Linked DNA regions of Homo sapiens: regions 1 and 2 are each linked to region 3. The links come from fine-mapping of genetic effects on gene expression. A gene starts in region 3. Each other region holds a variant in brackets. All regions are shown on one strand. Distances are from middle to middle.

Region 1 (10,651 bases), 46 kb after region 3:
ACCATTTGGTTCCTGGAACTGGGAAAAAACAGCAACCATAAGCTGTGCCTGGATGGAAGAAGACAACCTCTAGGGTCCTGTCTAACTCTGCAGGTGATTCAGTGCCTTACCCAATCCCTGAAGATCTTTTAGGTCCCAACTGCGCAGGGGACCTCCAACACAGGCAGACGCAAACAGCCTCTGGCCTGGACTTGCTGTGATCTCTGATTTGGCAAAATGAACCAGCAATAGTCTTGCCTTTGTGCTTTGTGTCCAGTTCTTCCTTCTTTTTTTTTTTTTTTTTTTTTTTTTGAGACAGAGTGTCTGTTGCCCAGGCTGGAGGGCAGTGGCGCGACCTTGGCTAACTGCAACCTCTGCCTCCCGGGTTCAAGCAATTCTTCTGCCTCAGCCTCTCGAGTAGCTGGGTTTACAGGCACCTGCCATCACGCCTGGCTAATTTTTGTATTTTTAGTAGAGACGGGGTTTCACTGTGTTGGCTAGGCTGGTCTTGAACTCCTGACCTCATGATCTGCCCGCCTCGGCCTCCCAAAGTGCTGGGATTACAGGTGTGAGCTGCCACACCCGGCCTTTTTTTTTTTTTTTTTTTTTTTTGGAGACAGTGTCTCACTATGTTGCTCAGGCTGATCAACTGATCTCAAACTATGGCCTCAAGTTATCCTCCTGCCTCAGCCTCCTGGATACCTGGGATTACAGGCACTAGCCACCACATCCAGTCTTTAAGCTTTTAAATTCAACTTACAAAGCTTGTTAGTTCTTCCTTCTTGACTTTATTCCTCATTGCATAGGCCTAGTCCTATTGAACTAAATGTCCATGGAGCATTTATCTGATCATTTTGAAATAATTTCAAAAAGTTGCAAGAATAGTACAAAAAACTCTTACCAGGCCAGGCACAGGGGGTCACGCCTGTCATCCCAGCACTTTGAGAGGCCGAGGCGAGTGGATTGCTTGAGCCCAGGAGTTTGAGACCAGCTTGGGCAACATGGCCAGACCTCATCTCTACTAAAAATACAAAAATTAGCTGGGCATGGTGGGGTGTGCCTGTGGTCCTAGCTATTCAGAAGGCTGAGGTGGGAGGATTGCTTGAGCCCAGGAAGAGGAGGTTGTAGTGAACTGAGATCACACCACTCCACTCCAGCCTGGCCAATAAAGCGAGACCCTGTCTCAAAAAAACAAACAAAAATAACAACAACAACAACACAAACCTCTAACATTCTCTTTGCCCAGGTTCCCCCAGTTATTAACATTTTACAACATTTGATTCCATATATCATTCTTTCTCTGTTTCTAATTGCTCTCTCTATATATCCTATTTTTTTTAACCACTCGAGACTAAGTTGCAGATATTATGCCTTTTATTCCTAGATTCTCCAGTGCACATTTCCTAAAGACAGTGACATTCTCCTATGGAGCCACAGTACATCCAATCAAATCAGAAAAGTATTAACATTGAAAAGACGCTAGTATCTGGCTCTGGCCCTGCTGAGCTTTGTTTTGTTTTGTTCTTGGTCCAGAACCCAATCCAGGATCACAAGTTACATTTAGCTGTCAACTCTCTAGTCTCTTTCAGTCTGAAATAGCTTCTTAGTCTTCCTTTGTGTTTTGGAACCTCATTTTTGAAGAGTACAGGCCAGTTACTTCATAGACTATCCCTCATTTCAGGTTCATCTAATGTTTCCCTAGGAAGAGGCTCAGGGGATACCTTTTTGAGAGGAGCACCTTGGCAGCGAGGCTTTGTCCTTCTCAGTGTACACACCAGGGGCACATGAATGGGGCCAAGTGTTATACTTCCAGCTTGTTGTTAAACCTTTAGGAGTCTGGAATTGGTCTTGATGGGAATTTTTTTTTTTTTTTTTTTGAGACAGGGGTCTCACTCCATTGCCTAGGCTAGAGTGCAGTGGCAGGATCGCTGTTCATTGTAGCCACTACCTCCTGGGCTCAAGCAATCCTCCTGCCCAGCATCCAAAGTAGTTGGGACTACAGGCGTGCACCGCCACCTCGGCTAAGTTTTCTTTCTTTTTACTTTTTGTAGAGATGGGATCATGCTATACTGTCTAGCCTGTCTCAAACTCCTGGCCTCAATCCATCCTCCCGCCTCGGCTTCCCAAAGTGCTGGGATTACAGGCATGAGCCACGACACCAGGCTTGTGGGAGTTTTTGTGCCACAAAAATCAGCAAATGTTACAAATCCATGTCCCCACCAGCCAGCTGTTACACATTTGCCAGCATACTGATGCATACAATGTTAATTTGTCTCAATATGATACTGACTTTGATCGCTTAAGTTGATTTCTGCCAGAATTTGCCATTGCGAAGTTACCATTTTTCCCTTAGTAATTAACACATATTTGGAGAGGAGACACTTTATGTAAAAGTCTTCACTCCTCCTTAAAACTTTACCCATTAGTGCTTGCATCCACTGAGGACTTTTGTCTAAATCTGCTATTACTATCATGGTTGCTGTTCCGTTTATTGCTGTGTAGCAAATTATCCCAAAACGTAGTGGTTTGAAACAAAAATAAAAATTTATGGGGCCAGGCGTGGTGGCTCACATCTTTAATCCCAGCACTTTGGGAGGCCGAGGCGGGCGGATCACCTGAGGTCAGAAGTTTGAGACCAGCCTGACCAACATGGGGAAACCCCGTCTCTACTAAAAATACAAGATTAGCCAGGCATGGTGGCGCACGCCTGTAATCCTAGCTACTTGGGAGGCTGAGGCAGGAGAATAGCTTGAACCCGGGAGGCGGAGGTTGCAGTGAGCCGAGATGGTGCCATTGCACTCCAGCCTGGACAACAAGAGTGAAACTCCATTTCAAAACCAAACCCAAAACAAACAAACAAATTTATGATCTCTCCCAGTGTCTGTGGGTCAGGGGTTTGGGCAGAGCCCAGCTGGACAGTTCTGCTCTGGGTCTCTCATGAGGTCCTTGTCACAGTGGAGGCAGAGCTGGAGCTGACGGGCCGCCAGGGGTCACCTCTCTGCACAGCCCCAGGGCTCAGCTGGTGCTCTCCTATGGCTAGTTTGGGCTTCTTCCCATTGGCCTCAACTTCTGGGGTAAGTATTCCACGGAATAAATGGAAGATTCTGGAAGTCACATGGCATTATTTCTGCCATACTTCGTTGGTCCCAACAGTAACAAAAAACACCTCCTGGTTTTAAGCGGAGGAGACAGAGATCCCAACTTTTGATAGAAGATTGTCAAAGTCACATTATAAAAAAGAATATATAGGATAAGAGAAGTCGTTGGAAAATATTTTGGAAAATACAACCATCAAATGGTGATTTTTTTTTCCTTCCTTCCTTCTTTTTTTTTTTTTTTTTTTCTTTTTCTGGGTCTCGCTCTGTCACCCAGGCTAGAGTGCAGTGGTATGATCACGACTCACTGCAGCTTTGACCTGTTGGGCTCAAGAAATCCTCCAGCCTCAGCGTCTCAAGTAGCTGGGACTACAGGTATGCATCACCGCAACCAGCTAATTAAAACTTTTTTTTTGATACAAACAAAGTCTCACTATGTTGCCCAATATGGCTCAAACACCTGGGCTCAAGCAATCCTCTCACCTCAGCCTCCCAAAGCATTGGGATTATAGGCGTGATCCACTGTGCCTGGCCAAAATGGTGATTTTCTAATTCTACCATTTCTTCCATATTAGTTGCCATTTTGCTGCAAGGAAGAACAATTCCTTCCCTCCCAGCTTCCTTTTTTCCTTTTTTTTTTTTTTGAGACAGAGTTTTGCTCTTGTTGCCCAAGCTAGAGTGCAATGGTGCAGTCTCGGCTCACTGCAACCTCCACCTCCCAGGTTCAAGTGATTCTCCTGCGTCAGCCTCCCAAGTAGCTGAGACTTCAGGCGCCTACCACCACGCCTAGCTAATTTTTGTATTTTTGGTAGAGATAGGGTTTCACCATGTTGGCCAGGCTGGTCTCGAACTCCTGACCTCAGGCGATCCGCACGCCTCGGCCTCCCAAAGTGCTGGGATTATAGGCGTGAGCCACTGTGCCCGGCCCCTTTTTTCCTTCTAGCTGTACGACTCAGGGATTCAGGTTGTATTCAATGAGCTATAATCCATTACTAGCACTATTTATTGTGATGCTTACACTATTCCAGATCTGGCCATGGGAGCCCTGTTAAGTTGGCTGCTGATAAAGTTCTATAATTGAGAACTTTCTTACTTTTTCCTTTTTTTTTTTTTTTT[TG/G]TGACAGGGTCTTGCTCCATCCCCCAGGCTGGAGTACAGTGGCACCATCACAGCTTATTGCAGCCTTGACCCCACAGGCTCAAGAGATCCTCCTACCTCACCCTCCCTAGTAGTTGGGACTACAAGCACGTACCACCACGTCTGGCTAATTTTTGTATTTTTTGTAGAGATGGGGTTTTGCCATGTTGCCCAGGCTGGTCTCAAACTCCTGAGCTCAAGCAATCTGCCCACCTCAGCCTCCCAAAGTGCTGGGATTATAGGTGTGAACCACTGCATCTGGCCATTCTTCCTTACGCAATAAAATGTTCTACCTTCATTTTGTACTTTCCCTGTGTCATGCCTGAGCTCAGCCATTTCTCCAGGGAGCTCTGTTCCTTTCAGTAGAGAATAATATTTAGTAGCCCTGATCTAGGCACTAGATGTGCTCATTGTTACTGGAGTGTGTGTGTGTGTGTGTGTGTGTGTGTGTAGACACAGAAATACAATTTATGCATATTAAAATGGGAATATTATGGCCAGGCATGGTAGCTCATCCCTGCAATCCTAGCACTTTGAGAGGCTGAGGCGGGTGGATCACTTGAGGTCAAGAGTTCGAAACCAGCCTGGCCAACATGGTGAAACCCCGTCCCTACTAAAAATAAAAAAAATTAGCCAGACATGGTGGTGGGCACCTGTAATCCCAGCTACTCAAGAGGCTGAGGCAGGAGAATCGCTTAAACACAGGAGGCGGAGGTTGCAGTGAGCCAAGATCATGCCACTGCACTCCAGCCTGGGCGAGACTCTGTCTCAAAAACAAACAAACAAGCATCCAAAACAAAACAAATAAAAAAAATGGGCAGGAAGAGGGAAAGAGTTGAAAAAAGAAGAGAAAACGATGGAATTGTTAGACTGGAAGTGGCCACTGGAATGGAAAGAGTTGAAAAAAGAAGAGAAAACGATGGAATTGTTAGACTGGAAGTGGCCACTGGAATGGAAAGAGTTGAAAAAAGAAGAGAAAACGGTGGAATTGTTAGACTGGAAGTGGCCACTGGAATGGAGGGCTCGGCTACCTTAGCAGTGCTCCCGAAGCTGCCATTTCAGAGGAAATGTGTGTTAGTCAGATTTTATTCTTTTTTCCTTAAGAAGACCCTTCAAATATGTATAAACCTCAGGACTGCCCCAAAATCTGGATCTGCGCCTGCTCTAGATCAGCTCTTCATTTGGAAGGAGGAAAGCGAGGTGGAGGTGTGTTCGTTTGAAAAGACTAGCTGAAAAGAGAAAACTTACAGGAGCCTCAGCTTGTGAGGGACCTTGAAAGACTATGCAACCAGCCTCACCTTCAGGAAGAGCAGCCCGAGACTTCCTCAGGAAGATGTCCCTGTTTCTTTTTATTTTCTTTTTTTTTGAGACTGAGTCTCACTCTGTCGCCCAGGCTGGAGTGTAGTAGCATGATCTCGGCTCACTGCAACCTCCACCATCCCAGTTCAAGTGATTCTCCTGCCTCAGCCTCCCTAGTAGCTGGGATTACAGGCACGCGCCATCACACCTGGCTAATTTTTGTATTTTTAGTAAAGTCGGGGCTTCACCATGTTGGCCAGGCTGATCTCGACCTCCTGACCTCAAGTGATCTGGCTGCCTCGGCCTCCCAAAGTGCTGGGATTACAGCCGTGAGCCACCGCACCCGGCGCCTGTTCCATTCTTAAAGCTCACCAGAACGCGATTCTGTAAACTGCTTCAGCCACCCATTCCGGAATCCCAAATGACGCCTTCCCATGGTCAGGATTTCAATGAGTGGTGCCATCCTTGGCTCTCACAGGAACTGATCCCTTGGGGAGGACTGTATGAAAATGCATCTGTAAGCTCAGATGAAGTCAGCATGCTAGGGTTGGAAATATTATTTTCACATACATAGTCTAGGTTACTTAATTTATTGTTTTGAGACAGGGTCTCACTGCCCAGCCTGGAGGGCAGTGCTGTGATCATAGCTCACTATAATCTTGAACTCCTGGGCTCAAGGGACCCTCCCGCCTCAGCCTGCCTCTCCAGTAGTTGGGACGACAGACGCGCACCACCACGCCCGGCTGTTTAATAGAGATGGGGGTCTCCTTTTGTTGCCCAGGATAGTATTGAACTCATGGCCTCACGTGATTCTCCTGCCTGTATCTCCCAAGGCACTGGGATTACAGGCCAGAGCCACCTTGCCAGGCCAGTATGTTACTTTAAATAGCAGTCATCCTAAAAATAGCTTACCCTCCTCTGTCCTTCCCTGCCTGGAAAGGGTGTAAAAATAACATTTGGGGGCTGTAAATGCTGTCTAGATCTCTGGAGCTAGGTAGGTGCAGAGGTGTGATTTGGGTTTGGCTGTGCTCCGAAAAAACCGGGGCCGAGCTGCTGGTTTTGAATTTGTCCAGGCTTTTTAGCCAATAGCCTCTTCCTCCGCCGGGAAGGGGTGGGACCCAGCCTTCCAAAACACCTTTGCTGAGGAACCGTGCAAAGACCTTGGATGAGGGCCCCAGCTCAGCCAGGCCTCCCTGAAGCGAAGCCAGCCCGGGGTGGGGACTGGTGGAGGGACTAGAGTTTCTTAGATTCACAGAATAGCAGAGCTGGGAGAGGCCTAAAGACCATCTTATCTACGCGTTTGTGTTTCTGATGACTGATTAAGGCCCAGAGAGGGTCAGTAACTCTTCCAGGTCGCACAGTGGGTGACAGTAGGTATGTGCTCGTCCTGGGACACAGAGCTGTTTTCTTCGCTTGTCTGGAGTGGGTTTCGGGGGTCGGCACTTGCCTCCCAGTGAGCTCCCGGCGCCTGCCAGTCCTGGCTGAGTGGGATCGGTCGGCCTCCACCCCTAATCTCCCCCGCTGCAGAGCCAAAGCACACCGGCCTCCAGGGGGCGCCGCCTCCGGGACGCGCCGACTCTCCCGAGCCCTGCTCTCTCTGGCCGGGGTCAGCCCCGGAAACAGCTTCAGTTTCCTGTCCCTTCCTCCCTGGGAGCAAGGATGTAGGCGCCCAGACCCCGCCCGCGGGCTCCCTTCGTCCGGCGTCCCTAGCGGCCCGCCCGGTCCCGCCGCCCCGCGGCTTGCGGATGGCTGCGGCCCCCCGGGCCCCGGGTGGCTGCGGTGGCGGGGAAACGGCAGAACGCAGGCGGCGATTCGCTGGGGACGGCGGCCGGAGGGAGGCGATGGCCCCAGGCTCGGCGCACCTGTGGAACTGCGCGGGCGGCGCGGCGCTGCTGCCCCCTGCCGGCCGCGCCCGGGCCCACTCCCGTGTCCACCCCGGCCCGGGTGCCCTCGGAGTCCCTCGCGTCACTGTGGGCAGCGCCAAGCTACGGCTTCCCATGGCAGAGCGGGGTGGGGCCGCGGGACGGCACAGAGCTCCCCTGCCGCGAATACGCCGGTTTAGTTGCTTCCCACAGATCACACATGGTCTCGCCTGTCCGCAGGGTCCCCTCCCGGCCTCAAGCCCCTGCCAGGCAGCATCGGCCGCTGGTGACCTTGGGTCATCCTGGCCTCTATGCATTTAGAGTAGACGCCGGGTGGTGGCGGCGCCTGTAGTCCCGCATTCTGGGAGGCCCAGGCGGGGCGCTAGAGCCCAGGAGTTCTAGACCAGCCTGGGGAAAACAGCGAGACTCTGTCTCTTCAAAACAAAACAAAAACAAACAAACAAAAAAGGGTAGAGCCCATAGTACAGGATGAGAGAGTAGTGCCGTAATGAATTTTAAATTTTAATTACATTTAAAATTAAAATGAATCTATATACAATCACATTTCAAAAATTCAAAAAGTATGAAAAGGAACACATTCGAAAGGCTTCTATCCACCTCTGTTTTCCACTGTCCTCTTTCCCATCCCACCCATTCTCCCACCAGGCTTAGTTTCTTGTGTTTCTTTATGCAAAATAAACAAAAGCAAATATATATATTTTTTCCTGCTCTCATATAAAAGGCAGCACAGTATCCACACTGTTCTGAACTCTTTTTTTTTTTTTTTGAGACAGGGTCTCACTCTGTTCCCCAGACTGGAGTGCAGTGGCACAATCTCAACTCACTGCAGCCTCCACCTCCTGGGTTCAGGCTATTCTCCTGCCTCATCTGGACCACAGGCGCACACCACCATGCCCGGCTAATTTTGTATTATTATTTTTTTCGAGATGGAGTCTTGCTCTGTCGCCCACAGATGGAGTGCAATGGTGCGATCTCGGCTCACTGCAACCCCTGCCTCCCGGGTTCAAGCAATTATCCTGCCTCAGCCCCCCGAGTAGCTGGGATTACAGGTGTGCGCCACCACACCTGGCTAATTTTTGTATTTTTAGTAGGGACGGGGTTTCACCATGTTGACTAGGCTGGTCTTGAACTCCTGACCTCATGATCTGCCCACCTCGGCCTCCCAAAGTGCTGGGATTACAGGCGTGAGCCACCACGCCCTCCCTAATTTTTTTATTTTTATTTTTTATTTTTTTGAGATGAAGTCTTTGCTCTTGTCACCCAGGCTGGAGTGCAATGGCACCATCTTGGCTCACTGCAACCTCTGCCTTCCAGGTTCAAGCAATTCTCCTGCCTCAGCCTCCCAAGTAGCTGGGATTACAAATGCACACCACCACGCCCGGCTAATTTTTGTATTTTTAGTAGGCCAGGCTGGTCTCGAACTCCTGACCTCAGGTGATCCAGCCACCTCCCAAAGTGCTGGGATTATAGGCATGAGCCAACGTGCCCAGCGAATTTTTGTATTTTAGTAGAGACGGGGTCTCACCATGTTGTCCAGGCTGGTCTTGAACTCCTGACCTCAAGTGATCTGCCTGCCTCAGCCTCCCAAAGTGCCGGGATTACAGGCCTGAGCCACTGCGCCCCGCCTGGATCTCAAGTCTTGATAAGATTTAGGATTGATTCTTTCAGCAGGACTACTTAACAGGTGGTGTGCCTTCCAATTTGCATCCCAACCGTATTAGGGTTCTCCAGAGAGACAGAACCTATAGCATGCAGGTAGGTAGGTAGGTAGATAGATAGATAGATAGATAGATAGATAGATAGATAGATAGATAGATAGATAGAGATAGGAGACAGACAGATAGATGAGAAGGGATTTATTAGGTGAATTGGCTCCACGTGATTATGGAGGCCTGAGAAGTCCTACGACAGGCCGCCTGGAGACCTGGGGCTGCTGGGAGCATGGCTCAGTTCAAATCTGAAAGCCTCTGAACCAGGGGAGCTGAAGGTGTGACTCAGTCTGAGACTGAAGGCCTGAGAACCTGGGGGGCTGCTGGTGCAAGTCCCAGCATCTAAAGGTCAAGACCCTTAGACTTCTGATGTCCAAGGGCAGGAGAAGAAGGCTGTCCCAGCTCCAGGAGAGAGACAGCAAATTTGCCCTTCCTCTGCCTTTTTGTCCTACCGAGGCTCCCAGCTGATTGGATGGTACCCTCCCATATTGACAGGGCGTCTTCCCCACTCAGCCTACCAACTCATACGCCAGTCTCCTCTGGAAGCAGCCTCACAAGACACTGCTTTACCAGCTATCTAGGTGTCCCTCAATCCAGTCAAGTTGACTCCAAAAAGTAACCATCAAATACAATGAAGTGCAGCCAGTCAAAGGCTGGGACCCATCCATGGCTGGAGCCACAGGGGCAGCAGCCAGTGGGGTCACTTGGAGTCAGGGCATGGGGAGACAGCATCAGGCAGTGGCTCCATCTGCTCAGCCCACCCGTAAGCCTGGGCTCTGGAGGGCAACTGACTCCCCCAGGAGCCTTCCCTCTGCCTATCCCTGGAGTTCCCTCCCCTCCTATGGGAGTCTGGGGGCCTTCAGGAGCTGATCCCCTTGCCTGCATGCCAGTCTCCCTAGGAAGGATCTTGCAGAATGAGCCCAGGTTCAGCTCAGAGACTCTCTGGTGCCAGCTGCCCCTTCTCAGGGTCGGTGGCAGGAGAGTGTGAGGGCTGAGCTAAGTGCATCAATGCCCCGTTTGCCCCTAGGATTCGGAAGAGGCCATGGCAGGAGCTGTATTTGGAGGGTCCAGGCACTGCCCTGACTGGGAAGTGCAGTGCAGCCTAGGGATGGGCCAGGGAGCTCACAATGACAAGAGGGCAGAGAGCAGGGAGTCTATCTGCCCTCCTGGGGAACAGCCACCAGGTACCAAGCAGGGAGGCTAGCAGCCCAGCCCAGGGACTTGCGTGGACTTCGCATGCTTCCCACATGCTTAGAACTCTGTCAGGGGCCAGGCACGCTGGCTCCAGCCTGTAATCCCAGCAGTTTGGGAGGCCAAAGCAGGTGGATCACCTGAGGTTAGGAGTTCAAGACCAGCTTGGCCAACTTGGTGAAACCCCATCTCTACAAAAATTAGCCAGGCATGATGGTGGGAGACTGTAATCCCAGCTACTCCAGAGGCTGAAGGGGGAGAATCACTTGAACCCGGGAGGCGGAGGTTGCTCTGAGGCGAGATTGTGCCATTGCACTCCAGCCTGGGCAACAGAGTGAGACTCCGTCTCAAAAAAAAAAC
Region 2 (10,651 bases), 22 kb before region 3:
TGATCTCCTGACCTTGTGATCCACCCGCCTCGGCCTCCCAAAGTGGTGGGATTACAGGCGTGAGCCACGGCACCCGGCAGCACTTGCTTTTTCTAATAACAAAGTGCCGTGACTGCTCTGCCATCTGCCAAGAGCTGTGGAACCAAGGGTCTGGGCTGGAGGCTAGAAGGCCATGGTTCTGGGGACCCCACTTGCACCCTCTTACTGATTTTATGGAGTGGACCCGAGAGCACCAGCTCTGTCTAAAGGGGGCAGCTACTGGTTTTGCCTTGTATGAAGAAGAGTCCCCTTTTGCCCAATATTCTGATTTTTTTTTCTAGGAGAATTTAAAAATTTTAATACTATGTGATGTTGTCTCCTTTTTTTAAAGCTAGCAAAAAATTCAAAATAATATTTTATTTTATTTTGAGACGGGGTTTTGCTGTGTCACCCAGGCTGGAGTGCAGTGGCGTGATCTCGGCTCACTGTAATCTCAGCCTCCCGGGTTCAAGTGATTCTCCTGCCTCAGCCTCCAGAGTAGCTGGGATTACAGACATGTGCCACCACACCTGGCTAATTTTTGTATTTTTAGTAGAGATGGGGTTTCACCACGTTGGTCAGGCTGGTCTCGAACTCCCGACCTCATGTGATCCGCCTGCTTCGGCCTCCCAAAGTGCTGGGATTACAGATTTGAGCCACTCCTCCCAGCCATCAAAAGAATATTCTAAATATGGTGGACCAAGCACAACATCTGAAGGTTCTATTTTGACCTCCAGGTAGGTGTGCATGAGGGATCCTTTTGGGATACTGACAGTGTTCTATAATAAACTCTAGAAGTGATATCCCTGAAAGTATGGTCTTACTGGTAATGTTCTAAAATGTATTAAGGTAATGGCTGTGCAGTTTGGTAAATTGACTAAAATTATTGAATTGTACACTTGAAAGGGATGAATTATATATATAAAATATGCCTCAGCCAGGCGCGGTGGCTCATGCCTATAATCCCAGCACTTTGGGAGGCCGAGGCAGGCGGATCACAAGGTCAGGAGTTCGAGACCAGCCTGACCAAAATGGTGAAACCCCATCTCTACTAAAAATACAAAAATTAGCCGGGTGTGGTGGTGCGTGCCTGTAGTCCCAGCTACTCGGGAGGCTGAGGCAGGAGAATTGCTTGAACCTGGGAGGCGGAGGTTGCAGTGAGCCAAGATCGCGCCACTGCACTCCAGCCTGGGCGACAGAGCGAGACTCCATCTCAAAAAAAAAAAAAAATGCCTCAATAAAGTTGAAAAAAATTTGTCCTGCAGGCTGTAGTTTGTAGTCGAAGGCCTAGAATATTATTCCTAAGGCCTTTCTCCCTTCCTGATTGTGGTTTTGTAGAGGCACCAACCCTGCTGATAGTGAGAACTGACAACATCAGCTTATAAGTGAGGGAGTGTGGCCCAGTGGTTCATACATGGGCCATGGAGTCACCTGAGTTCAATTCTGCTTTCCTCAACGACTAGCCATGTGACCTTGAACAAGTGATGTCCCCAGACTAGTCAGCTTTTCAGGACTCAGTTTTCTCATCTCTACAATGACAATGGTTATAATATCTGGAAGATTAAATGATGCCACACATGTAAAGCATCTGGCACAATGTAAGTCCTCAAGTAGTATTTCTCATTAGGAACTCTTGCCACTAAGCCCAGTGACCCGTTTAGTACCTGAACTAAATGAGGTGGAGCTTGCAGTGAGCCGAGGTCGCGCCACTGCACTCCAGTCTGGGCGACAGAGCTAGACTCTGTCTCAAAAAAAAAAAAGATTTTAAAAAGGTGGTGAATTCAAGTTGTGTCTTCAGAAGTTCAGATTTGGGCTCATTTTTCTTGGGTAATCTAGGAGGGTCAATTTTGCACTACCGATCTCCACTCCACCCCAACAAATGTTGCTCCTAAAATGGCCGTGGGACCTCCATTACTTTCTCAGCAAAAGTGAATTCTCGGCTGGGCGAGGTAGCCACGCCTGTAATCCCAGCACTTTGGGAGGCCAAGGCGGGTGGATCATCTGAAGGTGGGAGTTCAAGAACAGCCTGACTAACATGGAGAAACCCCGTCTCTACTAAAAGTACAAAATTAGCCCAGCATGGTGATGCATACCTATAATCCCAGCTAGTCAGGAGGCTGAGGCAGGAGAATCACTTGAACCTGGGTGTCAGAGGTTGTGTTGAGCTGAGATCGTGCCATTGCACTCCAGCCTGGGCAACAAGAGCGAAACTCCATCTCAAAAAAAAAAAAAAGAAGAAGAAGTGAATTCTCACGTACTTGTTTCAGACAGGTTTTTTTTTTTGTTGAGACGGAGTCTTGCTCTGTTGCCCAGGCTGGAGTGAAGTGGCGCGATCTCGGCTCACTGCAAGCTCCGCCTCCCGGGTTCACGCCATTCTCCTGCCTCAGCCTCCCAAGTAGCTGGGACTACAGGCGCCTGCCACCACGCCCAGCTAATTTTTTGCACTTTTAGTAGAGATGGGGTTTCACCGTGTTAGCCAGGATGGTCTCGATCTCCTGACCTCGTGATCCGCCCACCTCAGCCTCCCAAAGTGCTGGGATTACAGGTGTGAGCCACCGCGCCCGGCTCAGACAGGTTTTTAAGATACTGCTAATATAGCACTTGGAATGAAGGCACTCTGGCTGTCACTAGGGCGTGGTCAGTGCCCAGGGACTCCTGCCCATAGAGGAATGAAGCCCTACCCAGAGGCACCCTCTGCACGCCTGTGAAACCCCAGCAGGGGCTGCCACATTCCCTGGGTTATGGGTGCGGCAATGTGAACCGGGAATAAAACCTGGGGCCTTTCAGAGTGGCAGAGGAGGCTGAAAAGAGGTGGAGAGAGCCCAGCTGCACTCACGGGCCAACACAGACCCCTGGTCTAAAAGGAGTCCCCCAGAACGGGTCAGGCCAGAAATCCGTTCTAGTCCTCAGTTCCCCATGTTCTCTGTCCTCTGTGTCTCTCGCCAATTGCATAGGCTCCTCTTGTCTTTCTCTCCTTCCCTCCCCTGCCTGCATCTTCTCAACAGATGCCCTGTGCCGTCAATAAGTAGCCACGGGCCCCCCAAGCAAACAGGGGCATTCTCACCAGTATCTGAGTGCTCCCAAAGGGCTGTGGGGTCCGATCAGGTGGGAATGGGGCACAGATGGGGCTCATTCGCCTGGCCTGTTGGTTGAACTTGCCCCCTGGGGTGTGGCCATAGAGTTGTGGTGGGGAACCCCTTTTTCATGTACCCTGAGTAGGGGAAGCTGTGTGGAGAAAGTGGGGGGTAGGACTCTGCTGAGCAGGGCGAGGCCCACGGTTGTCTCATGACATTAGAAACATGAAATGAAACTCAAGGTCCTGAGTCATCCCTGTGACTGAGGCTTTTGGACTGGCTTTTTTTTTTTTTTTTTTTTGAGACGGAGTTTAGCTCTTGTTGACCATGCTAGAGTGCAATGGCGTGATCTCAGCTCATTGCAACCTCTGCCTCCTGGGTTCAAGAGATTTTCCTTCCTCAGCCTTCCTGAGTAGCTGGGATTACAGGCACGCGTCACCACGCCCGGCTAATTTTGTATTTTTAGTAGAGACAGGGTTTCTCCATGTTGGTCAGGCTGGTCTCGAACTCCCAACCTCATGTGATCCGCCCGCCTCGGCCTCCCAAAATGTTGGGATTACAGGCGTGAGCCACCGTGCCCAGCCTCGGACTGGCTTTTACCATTTTGAACAGAAAGTCTGCAGCGTGAACAATGGCTCAGGCTGATGAATGCCTCAGTCTAAGTGATTTAGCTGGTGCTGACCCGCTCCCTCATTGATCTTCCTCATTCCCAATTCCAGCAGCAATTGAAGTCTGCACCACACAATTTAGAACTCAGTTGTATATCACCTGCTGCTGTTCCTGTTGTTTCCTATGAGTTGGTCTTGCCTTTCCAGCAAGAATTACAAGCTCCTTCAGGACTGGGATCAAGTTTGTTTGATACTCCTTTAACCTCCAACGCCACTCAATAAATACCCCTTGATTAGATCAGATAATATCTGCATTGCAGTGAGCCAACTTGGCACAGAGAGGCACTCAATAAATGCTTGCATGAAGGAGTGATTTTTTCTGTTGACAAAGGACAAGACAGATCTTTCTGAAATTTTGCAGGAGGTACTTACATCTAAACTTGGTCTGCTGATTATGACAAATCTCAGCCCCCTCTTCTGAAATCACTTCCCTCAACTAGTGAAATAGGTTGGTATTAGTATTCCATACTTACAGTGTTGCTGGCTGAGTGGTGTCTCCCCCAAAATTCATGGGTTTGTTTTGTTTTGTTTTGTTTTGTTTTGAGACAGAGTCTTGCTCTGTTGCCCAGGCTGGAGTGCAGTGACACGATCATAGCTCACTGAGCCTCGACCTCCTGGGCTCAAGGGATCCTCCCATCTCAGCCTCCCAATGTGTTGGGGTTATAGTTGTGAGCCACCACTCCTGGCCCAAAACTCGTGTGTTGAAGCCTTAATGCTCAGTACCTCAAAAGGTGACTGTACTTGGAGATAGGACCTTTAAAGAGGTGATTAAATTAAAAGGAGGCCCTTAGGGTGGGCCTAATCTAATCTGACTGGCGTCCTTATAGGAACAGGAAATTCGGAGTGGGAAGAGACAGCAAGGGTCCTTGTTGGCACACTGAGGCCTCAGAAGAAACCAAGCTTGTCAACACTTTGATCTTGGACTTCCAGCCCAGGGAACTGTGAGGA[A/G]ATAAGTTTCTGTTTTTTGAGTCACCAAGATTGTGATATTGTGTGATGGCAGCCTCAGCCAACTAACACAGAGAGAAGTTGAGGTCTCCAGAAGGGAAGTATCTTCTGTCATGGAGTAAGCCTCTAAGCTGTCCAGAATTCCCCCAAGGTCATGTGTCCCTAAGTGCGGGCACTCCCACAGGGGTGCCACAGTCTAGCCGTGTCCTGGATTTACTCCTTCTTGTGCTCCCTTCATACCAAGCCAAGGGTCTCTGTCTCCGTGGGGCATTCTCCCCTGGATCCTGGCCACTCCACACCCCTCCCCACCCTCTCACATTCCCACCTCCACATCCCTGCAAGCACCCATGTGAGATGTGCCCTGCCACACTGCAAGGAAGTGCAAGGCTCACATGGTGTTTTGTTGGGGTGACTCCAGAGAGCCTTCTTCCAGGGCTCCATTCTCTTTGCATGGGAGGACAGCATCAGGCAGTTCCATCCACGGGCTGCCTAGTCTGAGCAGTTGCTAGCGTCAGGGTAGGGCAGACCTCTGAGGCCAGGCCAGTGGGCGGGCAGAAGCCACGCTCCCAGGCACCAGCCAGGAAGCTGGATCTAGGGGTGGGCATGTGGAGGTGGGAATTCCAACAACGTCTGGGAGAAAGACAGGCGAGGCACAACAGTCAGAGGACCAGAAAGAAACCAATGAGTGGAGGCCTGGTCGGGCCATCTGGGCAATTGCCTGTTTGTTTAAGAGATCCAACTCTGAGTGTATGGAATTGAGAGACCTGGGCCCAAGGGGCAGAGGGTAGGGGACTCCCATGCAGTTTATGCCCTGGAGTTCTTTTTTTTTTTTCTTTTGAGACAGAGTCTCACTCTGTTGCCCGGGCTGGAGTGTGGTGGCATGATCTCAGTTCACTGCAACCTCCACCTCCCAGGTTCAAGCGATACTCCTGCCTCAGCCTCTGAAGTAGCTGGGATTACAGGCGCCCGCCACCATGTCCAGCTAATTTTTTTGTATTTTTAGTAGAGACAGAGTTTCACCATGTAGGCCAGGCTGGTCTCAAATTCCTGACCTCATGATTTGCCCGCCTCAGCCTCCCAAAGTGCTGGGATTACAGGCGTGAGCCACTGCGCCTGGCCAACACCCTGGAGTTCTCTCTCGTGTATCTGTCAGATTTTGTTTGCCCCCTTTCTCCTACCTGCACCTAGAAAACTGTTTTTCACCTGGATTCCCGTTTTCCAGTGTCAGCTATGTGTCACACTTTGCCAGCTTTTGCCCAACCACGTAGGATGTGATCTGAGCACACAAACACCTTCCAGGTTTTAAAAAACTGTTCAGTTAATCATTGCAGGCACGTCTTGGTTACTGAGGCTGGCCTTTGTCTGGAAGTGTCTTCTAGGTAGACTTTGACTAGCAGAGAGTAGCACCTTTGAGGCTGGTGTGGATTGCCTCATTGCATGGTGCCCACCTTCCGTGCATGGCCCCTCAGTGTGATACCCAGGGGGCTTTGTCTGCGGGTGGGGTGTGATAGCAAACCTTCTGTGAAAGGGAGGCTGCCACTCCCCTTCGCTACCCGCCACTTTGATCTAACCTAGCTGGGTGCACTGTTGTCCTTGGTTTGCTTCTACAACACTGCAGTTTCTGTGTCACCTTAAGCCCTTGAAACCTAGTGACCGACCTTCTGAAATGCCTCTGCAGCTCCATCACTCATCCTAGAAAGATGGCATTATCCATCCTCAAGGAAGATATCCATCCTAAAGAAAGATTCAGCTAGGATATACAATGCTTCTCAAACTTGACCATGCACGAGGATCACTGGAGGGGTGGTTAAAGCAGATTCCTGAGTCCCCGCCCTGGAGTTTCTGAGTCGGGAGGTCTGGGAAGGTGAGGCTGCTGAGTCTGGCCAGGGGCCATACTCTGAGACCCACAGAGCTAGGATTACAAACTGTGCCATCTCTCTGAGTGTGTGCGACTGAACACTTGCTTTTAACCATTCTTTCTCAAACACTCTCTTGCGAATGTTGAGGAGAGCCTGGATCAGGGTCCTGGATAAGAGCTGACGAAATAGCACCAACAGTGGGTCTCTGGGCCTAGTTAGCCCTGAAATGTAGTTGGGGCTGAGCCTGATATTTCACAGGCTGCTTCTTGACTCATGTTTGAAAATTTTTTTTTAATCCAGTGTGATTTATTCTTTCTTTGAGACAAGGGCTTGCTCTGTTGCCCAGGCTGGAGTGCAGTGGCACAATCATAGCTCACTGTAGCGTTGACCTCCTGGGCTCAAGTGATCCTCCCGCCTCCCAAAGTGCTGGGATTAGAGGTGTTAGCCACCACACCCAGCCAAACTCTAACAAAATACTGTAGAGAATAAATCACAATAAAGCAGGTGCAGTGGCTCATGCCGGCAATCCCAGCACTTTGGGAGGCCAAGGCAGGAGGATCGCTTGAGCCCAGGAGTTCAAGATCAGCCTAGGCAACATAGCGAGACCTCATTTCTACAAAAAATTTTTTCAAAAATTAGCCAGGCATGGTGGCACGTGCCTGTGGTCCCAGCTGCTCAGGAGGGAGACTGAGGTGAGGGGATCCCTTCAGCCTGAGAGGTCCAGGCTCCAGTGAGCTATGAATGTTTGCACCATTGCACTCCAGCCTGGTGGGGCAGAGCAAGGCCCTGTCTCTAAATTAAAAAATAAGAAGTCCAGGGAGGCTCAGCTGAGTTCTCTGTTTAAGATCTTGCAGGCTGAGATCAAGGTGCTGGCAGGGCTGCATTCCTGACCGGAGGCTCTGGAGGAGTCTTCTCCTACACTCATGCAGGTTGTGGGCTAACGTCAGCTCCTGGAGGTTGTGGGACTGGGACCCCTCTTTCCTTGCTGGCTGTCAGCTGGGGAAAAGTCTCTGCTCCTGGAGGGTGCCTGCTCTCCCTGACATGCTTTCTGTCAGCCGTGAGTCCCTCCCACCCTTCAAATCTCTGGCTTTTTATGTTGAATCTCTCAGGCTCCAGCCATATACAGCTCTGTGCTTTTAAGGGATCATGGGATTAGATTGGGTTCACCTGGATAATTCCGGCTAATCTCCTCATTTAAAGGTCCATGACCTTAATTAGATCTACAAAGTTCTCTGTGCTGTATATAATACAACATATTTTCAGGATTAGGGCACGGAGATCTTTAGGAAGATATTCTGCCTGTCACAAATAGGTAACACGGTTGAAAAAAAAATGAGAATACCATCTAAGTGATGACAGTGAAGTCTTATTCCAACTCCCTGTCCTTTCTGCCTGATTCTTCACCCATCTGAACAGCTTGCCACTTGTATTAGTCTCTTGTGTATCCTTCCAGAGTTTCTTTTTTGAAAACATAGCCATGAATAGCCTAGATGCGGTGGCTCATGCCTGTAATCCCAGCAGTTTGGGAGGCAGAGGCAGGCGGATCGCTTGAGCCCAGGAGTTCGAGACCAGTAACATGGTGAAATCCCACCTCTACAAAAACAATACATAAATGAATAAATAAAATTAAGGCCAGGCGCGGTGGCTTACACCTGTAATTCAGCACTTTGGGAGGCTGAGGCGAGTGGATTACCTGAAGTCAGGGGTTGGAGACCAGCCTGGCCAACATGGTGAAACCCGGTGTCTACTATTTTTTTTTTTTTTTTTTTGAGATGGAGTTTCACTCTTGTTGCCCAGGCTGGAGTGCAATGGCGCAATCTCGGCTCACCGTAACCTCCGCCCCCCCAGGGTTCAAGTGATTCTCCTGCCTCAGCCTCCCAAGTAGCTGGGGTTACAGGCGTCTGCCACCACGCCTGGCTATTTTTTTGTATTTTTAGTAGAGATGGGGTTTTACCATGTTGCTCAGGCTGGTCTCGCACTCCAGACCTCAGGTGATCCACCCGCCTCGGCCTCCCAAAGTGCTGGGATTACAGGCACGAGCCACCGCGCCCGGCCGCCTTTTTTTTTTTTTTTTTTTTTTTGGAGACAGAGTCTTGCTCTGTGGCCCAGGCTGGAGTGCAGGGGCACAATTTCAGCTCACTGCAATCTCTGCCTCCTGGGTTCAAGCAATTCTCTTGCCTCAGCCTCCCCAGTAGTAGCTGGGACTACAGGCGCCTGTCACCATGCCCGGCTAATTTTTATATTTTTAGTAGAGACGAGGTTTCACTGTTGGCCAGGCTGGTCTCGAACTCCTGACCTCGTGATCCACCCGCCTTGGCCTCCCAAAGTGCTGGGATTACAGGTGTGAGCCACCGTGCCCGGCGAAGGTTTTTTTATAGTGCATAGAAAAAGTTCTTCATCTATCTTTATAAAACATAGGACTCGGTACATGGGTACCGTAATTTACTTAACCGGCCTCTTATTCACAGACTATTGGTCTATTCCTGATATTCTGCCATACACTCTGTAGCCACCTGTGCTAACTTCATACACACACATTGCTTACATGTGACCACTGATTTTTGTTTTTTACTCTAACATCTCTAAGGCTAGAGGCAAGTTGGGGTGGTAACAGTCTCTTGTGGGTACACAACTTGTCCATGGGCAGTTTGATGGCCCACAAAATGGAGGCTTTTGCTTAAATCTGTGAATCTGTGTCATTGCCGAACCTAAATGTTGTCTCAGTGCTGCCAAAGCATTCTCAGCTTTTCTGTAGGACACTGGTCAGCCCCAGTGCACACCAACCCAGTCCATGTGAACGGTGCCTGTCAGGTGCAGCCACCAGATGGGCAAGCTGCCACTCGGCCCCAAGCCCCTGCACCCACCGGCCTTGACACTCTGACCAGAGGACATTCCTCTTGCGGGGCCTGAACTGTCATCCCCGCTCATCTTCTGGGTGGTGTTTATGCTCTTGCCCACAAGGGCCCTTTCCTTTGGCCCTTTGGAGGCCTCCGGCTCCCTGGCCAGTCCCTCCTCCTCTCCTGTTTTCTGGGTTGTCGTCAGGTGTCTGAAGATTCATAAGCTGATTCTGAAGGCTGATCTCCTCACCTAAAATAGCAAGCTCAGCTGACTGCAGGGCTTGGCCTCTCAAGGCATGCACAATAAGGGTCTTGGCTGCAGCCAATTTCCTGCCCCCTCCCCACCACCCAACCTCAGCCCCAGGACCAGAAGTTTTCTGTCCTTCCTATTTTATTCCGTAGAGGTCTCAACTTTCAGTTTCATTATGAGACAGAAATGAGTGACGTCTCCTGAAGGGCTCTCTGATGACTGACTGGGGATAAGTACCCACCCCTCCAAGCCTTCTATCACCACTGCAAAAAACTCACAGTGGGCAGTGACTGCACATTCATCAGCAGACAGACATCCATCCATCCAGAGAACCAGGGCTGTCCCCCAGGCTGGGTTCAGGGGCTGGGGAGAAGCAAACTGAGAAGCCAAGGCAGGGCCTAGAACTCTGGGAAGACCAGGAAAGCACAAACCATGGCTTTAATAAACAATAAAATAGATTTAAGAGCTATTTCTGGCCGGGCGTGGTGGCTCACACCTGAAATTCCAGCACTTTGGGAGGCCAAAGGGGGGCGGATCGCCTGAGGTCGGGAGTTTGAGACCAGCCTGACCAACATGGAGAAACCCCGTCTCTACTAAAAATACAAAATTAGCTGGATGTGGTGGAGCATGCCTGTAATCCCAGCTACTTAGGAGGCTGAGGCAGGAGAATCGCTTAAAGCTGGGAGGCGGAGGTTGCGGTGAGCTAAGATCACGCCATCGCACTCCAGCCTGGGCAATGAGTGAAACTCCCTCTCAAAAAAAAAAAAAAAAAGGAGCTGTTTCAATCCACTGGGACGGATTTCTTTCTATTCTCTCTGCATCAGATGGAGCAGAGCTTCCAGATGGGGGTTAATATGAGCTGTCACTTCTCACTTGGCATCGCATATTCTTTACTCACTTTCCTTTTTTTTTTTTTTTTTTGAGATGGGGTCTCACTCTGTCACCCAGGCTGTAGTGCAGTGTGCGATCATGGCTCCCCACAGCCTTGAACTCCTGGGCT
Region 3 (10,651 bases):
AAAAAAGTCTTCATTTTTAGTATGATAACCCCATCCTTAACTAGGCCAGAAACTCTGTTTTACCTTTCCCTGAAAACAAATCTTCACTGCTCTGCTGAAGAGGGAGTGGGAGGAATGTCTGTGGCTCTAGGTTTTTGTTAAAAAGGCTTTCCAGCCATTCCTCCATTTCTCCTGCTTTGGACTTACCTTCAGCCTCACTTTCACAGGTATCCGAGGTTTCTTTCGTCACTGCTGGTTTCAGATTCAGTGTTTGTTTTTTTTGTTTGTTTGTTTGTTTTTTTGTCTTCTAAATTATTAGCACTTGTTTATGTACCTTCCATCTTCCAAGTTTTTTTTTGCTATTTTCTCCTTTCTTGCTTTCTTCAACCTTGTGAATATATGCTTAATTTTTTTCCCCACTGTCATTTTAGTGCAGGTTTTGGAGAGGAACTAAGGTTAATTCATGTGTTCAGCCTGCAATCTCTAATTGAGAATCCATCCATGCACTTGTGAATATGCCCCAACTCATAGAGCAATTGAAGGGGCTCTCACTGGTACTGTTGGAGTATCTTGTTCTTCAGTCCCTAGACCACAAGAAGTAAAGCATTAGAGGGAGAGGATTGCTGGAATTTAGACCTACCCAGAATGACAAGTGAACTGCATAGGAAGGGACAGAAAAATTATATAAAAATACATACAAGCAGAGCAGTCTGAAGCCATTTAGGACAGGGGCAAACAAAGCTCCACACCTCACTGGCATTGGAAATAGAGTGATAATGCAATAGCAATAGAAAGTATTATGATAAATGCTCATAATAATGATACCAAGTCCTCAAAAAAGATCAAATTATGTTCACTGCACCCTAAGAAGCCAGAAAAAATACTAGAAAGATTTGTGCAAGGAAAATTACTTATGCTGGGCTGGGCACGGTGGCTTACACCTGTAATCCCAGCACTTTGGGAGGCCGAGGCGGGCAGATCACCTAAGGTTGGGAGTTGGAGACCAGCCTGACCAACATGGAGAAACCCCGTCTCTACTAAACAAAACAAAACAAAACAAACAAACAAACAAAAATTAGCCAGGCGTGGTGGCACATGCCTGTAATCCCAGGTACTCGGGAGGCTGAGGCAGGAGAATCACTTGAACCCGGGAGGCGGAGGTGGTGGTGAGCCGAGATCATGCCACTGCACTCCAGCCTGGGCAATAAGAGTGAAACTCCTTCTCAAAAAAAAAGAAAAATGAAAATCATTTATGCTGTGTAATTGTATAGTTGCTTTATAGTTTTAAAAATATTTTCAGCCAGGCACAGTGGCTCACGCCTGTAATGCCAGCACTTGGAAGACTGAGGCAGGTGGATCACGAGGTCAGGAGTTCAAGACCAGCCTGGCCAAGATGGTGAAACCCCGTCTCTACTAAAAATACAAAAAAAAAATTAGCCAGGCATGGTGGCAGGTGCCTGTAATCCTGGATACTCGGGAGGCTGAGGCAGAGAATTGCTTGAGACTGGGAGGCAGAGGCTGCAGACAGCCAAGATTGTGCCACTGCACTCCAGCCTAGGTGACACAGCGAGACTCTGTCTCAAAAAAAAATTTTCACATATATTATTTCATACATACACACACACAAAAAACTTACTTAGAAAAAAAAAACTTAGTAGGAGGCACATGACATTTTTTCCTTCTTGCAGATTAAAGCTTTGAGTTTTATGGATATTAGGACATTTTCTTCAAAACCACATAGCAGTTCAATGAAAGAGCTAACTTTTCTGCTTCCTAAAAATACTTTGGTGTTTCAAAACACAAGTTCCCAGTGTCTGGAAAAATCACTTATGCCTGGTAACGTCTATTCCTGGGCTCCACTTTTGCTAATTGTGTGTTCCTCCAGGGATCTGCTTCCTTGTGCCCGGTGACTCCCCCACTACTTCAAAAACCTTCCATTTTCTTGCTGCCAGGGAAAGCGGTGTGGTGGAACCCACCTGGGCCTGCAAGGCCGTGCTATGCTTGTTACTAGCTGTGTGACCTTGGGCAAGTTACCTTACTGCCAGGTGCTTCAGGGTACGCCTCTCTCAAGTGGGGATTGCAATAGTCCCTACCTTATAAGATTGCTGCAAGGATTAAATGAGTATATATACACACACACACATACACACACATATTTGTATATACTCATTTATAGGTATGTATTGCTGTAGGGATTAAATGTTATATATATATATATATATATATATATATATATATATATATATATATACACACACACATACATATATAATTCTTAATATGCCTTAGCAATTATTATTTCCATTTTCTTAACTCTGGGTCAGAGAATCTTATTTACCTCATATAACAATCATATATGCAGCACTTTAAACCACTGGTAACTCTGCTATACTCTGTTATAGGTTGTGCATAGCATATAATTCATGATATTGGTGTGAAGAAAGGGATGTTTTAATGAAAATACCTCTCAAATGTTTGTGTAGCCATAGATGATCTTTAATTCTGAAAACCTCTCCTGTCTCCAATTCTGAGGTCATAATCCACCTGTCTCTTCAGGCATCTTTCTGTTGAGGTTTAGTTTTGCAGTCACTAAAAGATGCCTTTGTCCTGTTTTTCTGCCCTGCAGATTTTCAGGTTCTGAACACAAGCCCAGTTTCTGCTTCTGATGATCATTTTCAATAGAGCATAAAAAACAGAGCCATGTTCCACGTTTTTACGGCCTCTGCACTTGGCAAAATATTCTTCCCGAATGGCCTCACGTGTGCTCCCTATCATCACGCCTTTTCAGCTAGGCAACGCTCAGAGTCACACCTGAGTGGAGGCCGACGCCCCTTTGGAGGCGACTCCAGCCATAAAAAGTCCTGCTTGGAGCTGGTTTTAGCCACAGAGGGCCAATAAATGGCCCCTTCTGAATGAGGTGCCCCTGCACCTCTGCAGAGCCTGCTGCCAGCCTCCAGGATCTAACTGGGCTCTGATTCACCGCTCCCAACCCCACATCCAGGTAAGTGTGCCCAGCTCTTGTCTCTGCTTCCACCTCAAGATCTGAGTCTCCACTCCCCAGAACCCGGCAGGTTCTGCCTGACAAGGACCTGCAGTCCTCTGCCAGCTGCCACACCCTTGCCAAGGTGTGACTTGGAGTCCTGGAGCCACCTTCGGAGATGTGAAAATTAGCTCCTACTTTTAGCTAAAGCGTTTGGAAAGAAAAGCTTGATCTTTAGCTTTGACCTGGTCTTTAAAAAAACCCTTCAAGGGGAACATCACACACCAGGGCCTGTCGGGGGGGTCGGGGCTGGGGGAGGGATAGCATTAGGAGAAATACCTAATGTAAATGATGTGTTGATGGGTGCAGCAAACCAACATGGCACAGGTATACCTATGTATCAAACCTGCACATTGTGCACATGTACCCTAGAACTTAAAGTATAAAAAAAACCCACAAAAAACCCTTCACATGATTTACTTTCAGAATTGGTGGTTTCCCTTTGTGCGGCGCTGGAATCAATCTTGTTTCTCCTTATTACTTGCGGTGCATTCTGCTTCCTCTAACTTTCAAAAAATTAGTGTTAAACTCTTTTTTTTTTTTTTGAGACAAAATCTCACTCTGTCATCCAGACTGGAGTGCAATGGTGCAATCTCAGCTCACTGCAACCTCCACCTCCAGGGTTCAAGCAATTCTCCTGCCTCAGCCTCCCAAGTAGCTGGGATTACAGGTGCGCACCACCACACCTAATTTTTGTATTTTAGTAGGGGCTGGTCTCGAACCCCTTCCATTGTGATCCACCTGCCTCGGCCTCCCAAAGTGCTGGGATTACAGGCATGCACCACTGAGCCCAGCCTAGTCTTGAACTCTTGATGAGGGAATCCCTGACCCCTCTGTGTTTTCACTTTGGGATTTCTTCCTGTTTATTAAATGAATGACCTTGGTACTTTTTGGAGAAAATGACAAAAAGGAGCATCAAGGCTCCAGATGTATGGGAGCTGCAGAACTGAAACTGCCGTGGGCTTTTGGGGGTAGATTTGGGGTCTTGGGGGTAGATTTGAGTGGGACTGGGGAGGAGTGGGGTGCAATCGAGTCTTTAGACCATGCATGTGACATGGAGGTCCCTGGTGTAGCCTCCCATGTCTGCATTTCTAATTGGCTTGGATGAGGCATCCCAATAGTTACTTCTAAGAATAGTCATGGCTAATATTTATCAAGAGCTTTCTATGTGGCAGGTACTTTGCATGTGTTTTTCCTTTAATTCTGACAATGGACCCTCTGTGGTGGGTGCTTTTATTATCCACATTTTCAGATGAGGAAACTGAAGTATAGAGAGTTGAAACAACTTGGTCGAGGCCCCACTGCTACAGTGCTAAGGCCAGCTACAAAGCGAGGTCTGACTCTGACCGTCCTGGGTACAGGAGCCTTGTCTGCTCCACTTGTCCCTTGGAGCGTTGTTCTTGCTGGTCCTCTTCACACCCCAGCTCTTGTCTCCTACCTCCTGCCCCCTCTACTGTCCTGTCCCCGCATCCCTGATTTCCCCCCTAAAACATATATTTTATTATAGCTACTTTTTACTCTCTGTCTAATGGGTTGCCCCACAGTCCACAATCACATTTTGAGGAAGGAGAACTTCCCAGAGTTCATGAACAGATTTTGGAGTGCCTCTTTGCGGTGCTTGTTTCCAAAACCAACATGCTGTGGACCTTTCAAAGACACAGTACACACAAACACACACACACCCTCCCTCCAACACAAATAAACCCACATGCGGCCGGGCATGGTGGCTCACGCCTGTAATTCCAGCACTTTGGGAGGCCGAGGTGGGCGGATCACCTGAGGTCAGGAGTTCGAGAGCAGCCTGACCAACATGGTGAAACCCCATTTCTACTAAAAATACAAAAAATCAGTGGGGCATGGTGGCGCACGCCTGCAATCCCAGCTACTCGGGAGGCTGAGGCAGGAGAACTGCTTGAACCCGGGAGGCGGAGGCTGCAGTGAGCTGAGATTGCGCCATTGCACTCCAGCTTGGGCAACAAGAGTGAAACTCTGTCTACAAAAAAAAAAAAAAAAAAAAAAAAACAAACCCCACATGCACATAAACCGAAACACACACGAACACACAAACACCCACATGAACATGCGCACAAGCCCCCCACATCAAACTCAGATGCACACAGCAAGCATGCATGTAAGCCACACACTTGCCACTCTGGCTGCCTCAGCACTGCAGAGCCCCTCTCCCCGGCCTCTAGTTGGATCCCTGGTGCACACTGGAGGGAAATAAAACCTACCCCAACAGGAAGTGAAACAGTTGGTGAGCTTTTCCGGTGCTCTGCACAGATGCTGGGGCGCTGAGCAAACAGCCCTCAGTTTCTGGAGCTGTTCCGAGGTAACTGGGGTCCTTTGGGAGCTGTGGGATGATGAGGTTCAGGAGGTAGCTGGGAAGTCCGGAGCTTGGGCTTGATCCACCTGCACCTCTCCCTGTCTCCATCTGAGCTGGGTCTGAGACTCTCAGTGGAGGAGTAACAGGCTTTCTCCCAACAGGCTTTTGAAAATGGGCCCAAGGGCATTTACTCAGGACCACAGATGCATGTGGCCTACTCCACTGTCACCAGGCTGGAGTGTGGTGGCACGATCTCGGCTCTCTGCAACTTCTGCCTCTCGAGTTCAAGCCATTCTTGTGCCTCAGCCTCCCTAATAGCTGTGATTACAGGCACCCACCACCACGCCCGGCTAATTTTTGTATTTTTAGTAGAGACGGGGTTTCACCGTGTTGGCCAGGCTGGTCTTGAACGACTGACGTCAGGTGATCTGCCTGCCTCGGCCTTCCAAAGGGCTGGGATCACAGGCAGAGCCACCACACCCAGCCTCCTTTCTTCTTAGTCTGGAAGCAAACTACTTTATGAAGTTTTCATGCATCCTCTTTTAAAAGTAAAAGGAAAATCTTGTGGAGGAGAGAAGATGAAGTAGATATAGCAATAAATTGTGAATAAGGATTGTTTTTACTAGTATTCAACCAGGCAGGTCTTGACCACCATTAGATAAACTTCTGTCTGGCAGCCTGGAAAAGTTCACAGTTGCTGGGACACAAATGCTTTTGGGGTCCTTCTTGGAGAGGATGGAGTTGAAGATTTGGGAGCTTGATGGCCTTTGTTATGTGTCACCAGGGAGACAGGGACAAGGGGCGGGGCTGTTGATGGAGAATGTGGCATGGGGTAGGTGGGATGGTGACATAGAAGTCACCGTGCTCCTGCCCTAGAGATTTTAGTAGCAGGCAAACACCGTGGTCAAAAAAGAGAGTCAAGGACTTAATGAAGTTAAAGGGGTTCTGCTGACGTCCAGCACTCTGATTTTGGGGGTACAGCTTCTGCCATAACTGCATATTGCTGATACTAGTTCCTTCTTAAAATTTTCTTTGCTATCTGATGTACTACAGAATAACTGAGCTGGGAAGAATCTTGGATATTAAAATGATTTAATGAGTAGCAAACTTTCCATTTTTGTCATATCCTTGCACCTCTATTTACTTAATATTTTTCTTTAACTTAAAAATTTTTCAACAAAAACAATAATAGTTACGATATCATGGGTTTGATGTGCTAATACATGTTTTAAAATTACCTATCTGTCAACATAACCCCTATCCATTTGTGAGCCACCTAAGATTGTATTTATGCCACTGATGATATTCATGCTGCACTTGGAAAACCACTGATCTTGTCCAAGTTACCTTTTTTGTAGGTGAGGACACTGAGATCTGGAGACGTTAGTGATTTGCCCAAGGTTGCACAGTTAGAATGATACTAATTTGAGGCTGTTCCTAAGGTCTCCTAATTTACAGTCTTGACATGTTCCAGTATGCTGTATCATACTTTCAAGTGTAGAGAAACAATCGTTTTATTTTCATTTTAAAAATTTTATTTACGTATTTATTTTTGAGACAGAGTCTTGCTCTGTCACCCAGGCTGGAGTGCAGTGGTGCAATCTAGGCTCACTGAAACCTCCGCCTCCCAGGTTCAAGAACTTCTCATGCCTCAGCCTCATGAATAGCTGGGACTACAGGTTCAATACACCACGCCTGGCTAATTTTTGTATTTTGGTTTTGCTATGTTGCCCAGGCTGGTATCGAACTCCTGGGCACCAGTGATCTGCCCACCTCAGCCTCCCAAAGTGCTGGGATTATAGGCATGAGCCACTGCCCCTTCTTAAATGTAATTCAAATAGATAACCCAGGTAAAGGAGCAGCATAGAGCCTTGTGTGAGGAGATGCTGAATACATTTCCTTCCTTCAGTCCCTGCTCGTTGCCACCCTGAACTGGCTGCTCTCTGCAAGTTTTGATAATCCTTTCTAATGCTAATGCTCTGAAATACCAAGATGCTGTACCTTGGTGTGGCCACAGAATGATTGACTGTGCTGTGCAAGGTACTCAATCTAAAGACTGTCAGTTCTGGGGCAATTTCTTGTATTCCTTATTGGCTTATTTCCTTCACCTGTTTTTTTTTTCTTTTTCCTTCTGAAATGTCTGTTATTTGGGTGTTGGATTTCTTCAACCAATAATCATCTCATTTTCTTTTCTCCTATTTTGCTTTACTTTTAAAAATATTTTCTTTAACTTCATTTTTAATATTGCTAGTAAATTTTTAAACATTCGGCTTTGCTGTTTTTAATTTCTGAAAGTTCTTTCTAATTCTCATTTTTTTAATCACCTCCTGTTCCTGTTTTACACACACAATGTTTTATGTCTTTAAGGATGTTAATTACAGTTCTTTCAGGTTTTTCTTTTATTTCCTGTGTTGCTTTGTTTCCTCTCAGTTCCTTATCTCTGTGTGTTTTGTTTTGGTTTCTTTCTCAGTTTGAAGCATGTCTTATGATCTTGTGCTCTGGTTATATTTGTTATTTATTTATTTATTTTAACTTTAATCCATTTTATTTGAGTCTCTCTCTCTATATATATGTGTGTGTGTGTGTGTGTTTTTTTTTTTTTTGAGGTGGAGTCTTGCTCTGTTGCCGGGCTGGAGTGCAGTGGCACGAACTCGGCTCACTGCAACCTCTGCCCTCTGGGTTCAAGCAAGTTTCCTGCCTCAGCCTCCCAAGTAGCTGGGATTACAGGCACACGCCACATGGCTAGTTTTTGTATTTTTAGTAGAGACAGGGTTTTGCCATGTTGGCCAGGCTGGTCTTGAACTCCTGACCTTGTGATCCACCTGCCTCGGCCTCCCTAAGTGCTGGGATTACAGGCATGAGCCACCATGCCCGGTCTTAGTTACTCTGAAATATACATAATATTATTGCTAAGTATAGTCACCCTAGTCTACTATGAAACATTAGAACTTATTTCTTCTATCTAACTGTAGGTTTTTTTTTTTCCTGGGAGTGGGGCAGATAGGGTTTCACTCTGTCACCCAGGCAGGAGTGCAATGGCACCATCATGGCTCACTGCAGCCTTGACCTCCCAGACTCAAGTGATCCTCCCACCTCAGCCTGCTGAGTAGCTGGGAGTACAGGTGTGTACCACTACACATGGATAATTTTTATTATTATATTTATTTATTTATTTTGAGATGAAGTCTTGCTTCTTCCCCAGGCTGGAGTGCAGTGGTGCGATATCGGCTCACTGCAACCTCCGCCTCTCAGGTTCAAGCGATTCTCCTGCCTCAGCCTCCTGTGTAGTTGGGATTACAGGTGCACGCCACCACGCCTGACTAATTTTTGTATTTTTAGTAGAGATGGGGTTTCACCATGTTGGTCAGGCTGGTCTCGAACTCCTGACCTCGTGATCTGCCTGCCGATAATTTTTAAATTTTTTGTAGAGATGGGGGTCTCGCTTTGTTGCCCAGGCCAGTCTTCAACTTCTAGGCTCAAGTGATTCTCCTGCCTCAGCCTCTTGAAGTGCTTGTCTATTTGTACCCATAACCAACTTCTCTTCATCCCCCATGTCTACCCCAACCCTTCATAGTCTCTGGTGTCTATCTTTCTATTCTCTATATCTATGAGATCAACTTCCTTAGCTCTCACACATGAGTGGGAACATACGGTGTTTGTCCTTCTGTGTCTGGCTTATTTCATTTAACATTATGTCTTCTAGTTCCGTGCATGTTGGTGCAAATGACGTGATTTCTTTTTTCTTTTTTTTTTTTTGAGACGGAGTCTTGCTCTGTCGCCCAGGCTGGAGTGCAATGGCATGATCTCGGCTCACTGCAACCTCCGCCTCCTGGGTTCAAGCAATTCTCCTGCCTCAGCCTCCTGAGTAGCTGGGATTACAGGCATCCGCCACCACGCTCAGCTAATTTTTGTATTTTTAGTAGAGACGGGGTTTCACCATGTTGGTCAGGCTGGTCTCAAACCCCTGACCTCGTGATCCACCTGCCTCCTGCCTCGGCCTCCCAAAGTGCTGGGATTACAGGCGTAAGCCACCGTGCCCAGCCCGTGATTTCATTTTTTAATGGCTGAGTAGTATTCCATTGTGTATATATGCCACATTTTCTTTCTTTTTTAAATAACTGGCTTCTGCTTTCTTGTGTAATTTACACAGGAGAACCCCAAATTCCACACTTTGTTTTTCTCTTCTGCCTTTGTTATTCTTTCAGTATGTATGTCCACAGAGATTGTTTCTCCCAATAGCATATGCGGTTTGATCCTCAACCAGGACACACAGGCCCTACAAAATCCCAGCCCTCCAAGACGGATGCCTGGGCCCTCCCATTTGACTGCACCCATGTCTGTTTGTACTGGGGCTCTGCCCTGGTCCTGTCACCCCTGAGGTGTCCTTAGGGTAGGAATGCCAGACAGGCTCCGTGTGATGTGTCAACTCTGAATAAATACAAGAGGCTGCTAGGAGCCCCCAGCTGAGGATTGACAGGCAGGCTATATCTGGGCTCCATTTCAAAGAATGCTGTGATCCATTAGCAATGTCTGCCATGGCAATACCCATTAGGAGTACCTGGAAGGAGGGTTTTGGGGAATGGGCTCAGAAAGGAACAAAGTGTTTCCTTCCATTCTTGCCTTAGGTGGCTGTTCTGCCACCCAGGCTGTGCTGTCTCAGTGGCCAGTGGCTGAGGAGGAAGTCTGAAGGCCACAGAGTTGCAAATGGCTTCCCTGGGGCCTGCAGGACCAGCATAGGCCCCAAGCTAGAGGAAGCTTGGAGGGGCACCCATGCTGGGTCCTGCGGAGCTCTGCATACTACAGGCCACCCTGGCATTAGCTCCTTATCCTCTGGAGTCCATCTGATCCTGGAGAAGACAGCTGGCTGGCCTCAGAGCGTTAGATGCAACTCGGGGATAAAAACATTTTTACATGGTACGGACACAGAAATGGGCTTTACCTCTGAATAAACTTAGAAACTTTCCATCCGAACTAAAAGGGTGTATCTTCTATATGTTGCCAAGAAACCTAAACTGAGTACAAGGACAATTTTACTTTAATCAAGTTACAGAATGAGGGTACACAGCTTCGAAAAGCAGTTTGTAGCAGAAGATGCGAGGGTGTGTGTAAAGCCATGTTTCTAGAATATACCAAAGGAAACACACACAACCCCAGCATGGCCTTTTGCCAACCCTCGATGCTGCTCCCTACTGGGGGCAGGCGGCTATTTCGTCCAGCTGACTCTGGGAATGTAATGCTCCGTGAGTGTGTCCAGGTGTCTGTTGAAGTCCTCCACTCTCTGCTTGTGGGTTTTGGATGCTATTTTT

What was found. PIP is the estimated chance that this variant, and not a neighbour inherited with it, causes the effect.
Region 1: its variant is fine-mapped to the expression of ADA2 in whole blood (INTERVAL, PIP 0.99).
Region 2: its variant is fine-mapped to the expression of ADA2 in whole blood (TOPMed, PIP above 0.99). The same link has a PIP of 0.9 or more in blood mononuclear cells and monocytes.

The regions. Positions count from the first base shown.
Region 1 is chr22:17,168,376-17,179,026 of GRCh38, reverse strand. It overlaps ADA2 (adenosine deaminase 2), which reads left to right. Exons shown (of 10, transcript NM_001282225.2): 10 at 1-237. Among named protein-coding and RNA genes, the nearest start is that of HDHD5-AS1, 14 kb to the right of the region's middle. RefSeq lists a silencer at 7,081-7,510 and an enhancer at 7,361-7,862. The variant TG/G (reference allele first, on the strand shown) is at 4,191.
Region 2 is chr22:17,236,328-17,246,978 of GRCh38, reverse strand. No RefSeq gene overlaps it. Among named protein-coding and RNA genes, the nearest start is that of ADA2, 22 kb to the right of the region's middle. RefSeq lists enhancers at 3,151-3,410, 3,431-3,490, 9,386-9,475, 9,546-9,595. The variant A/G (reference allele first, on the strand shown) is at 4,709.
Region 3 is chr22:17,214,056-17,224,706 of GRCh38, reverse strand. It overlaps ADA2 (adenosine deaminase 2), which reads left to right and starts at 5,272. Exons shown (of 10, transcript NM_001282225.2): 1 at 5,272-5,351. It also overlaps the pseudogene FAM32BP. RefSeq lists enhancers at 5,485-5,614, 5,625-5,694, 5,535-5,895.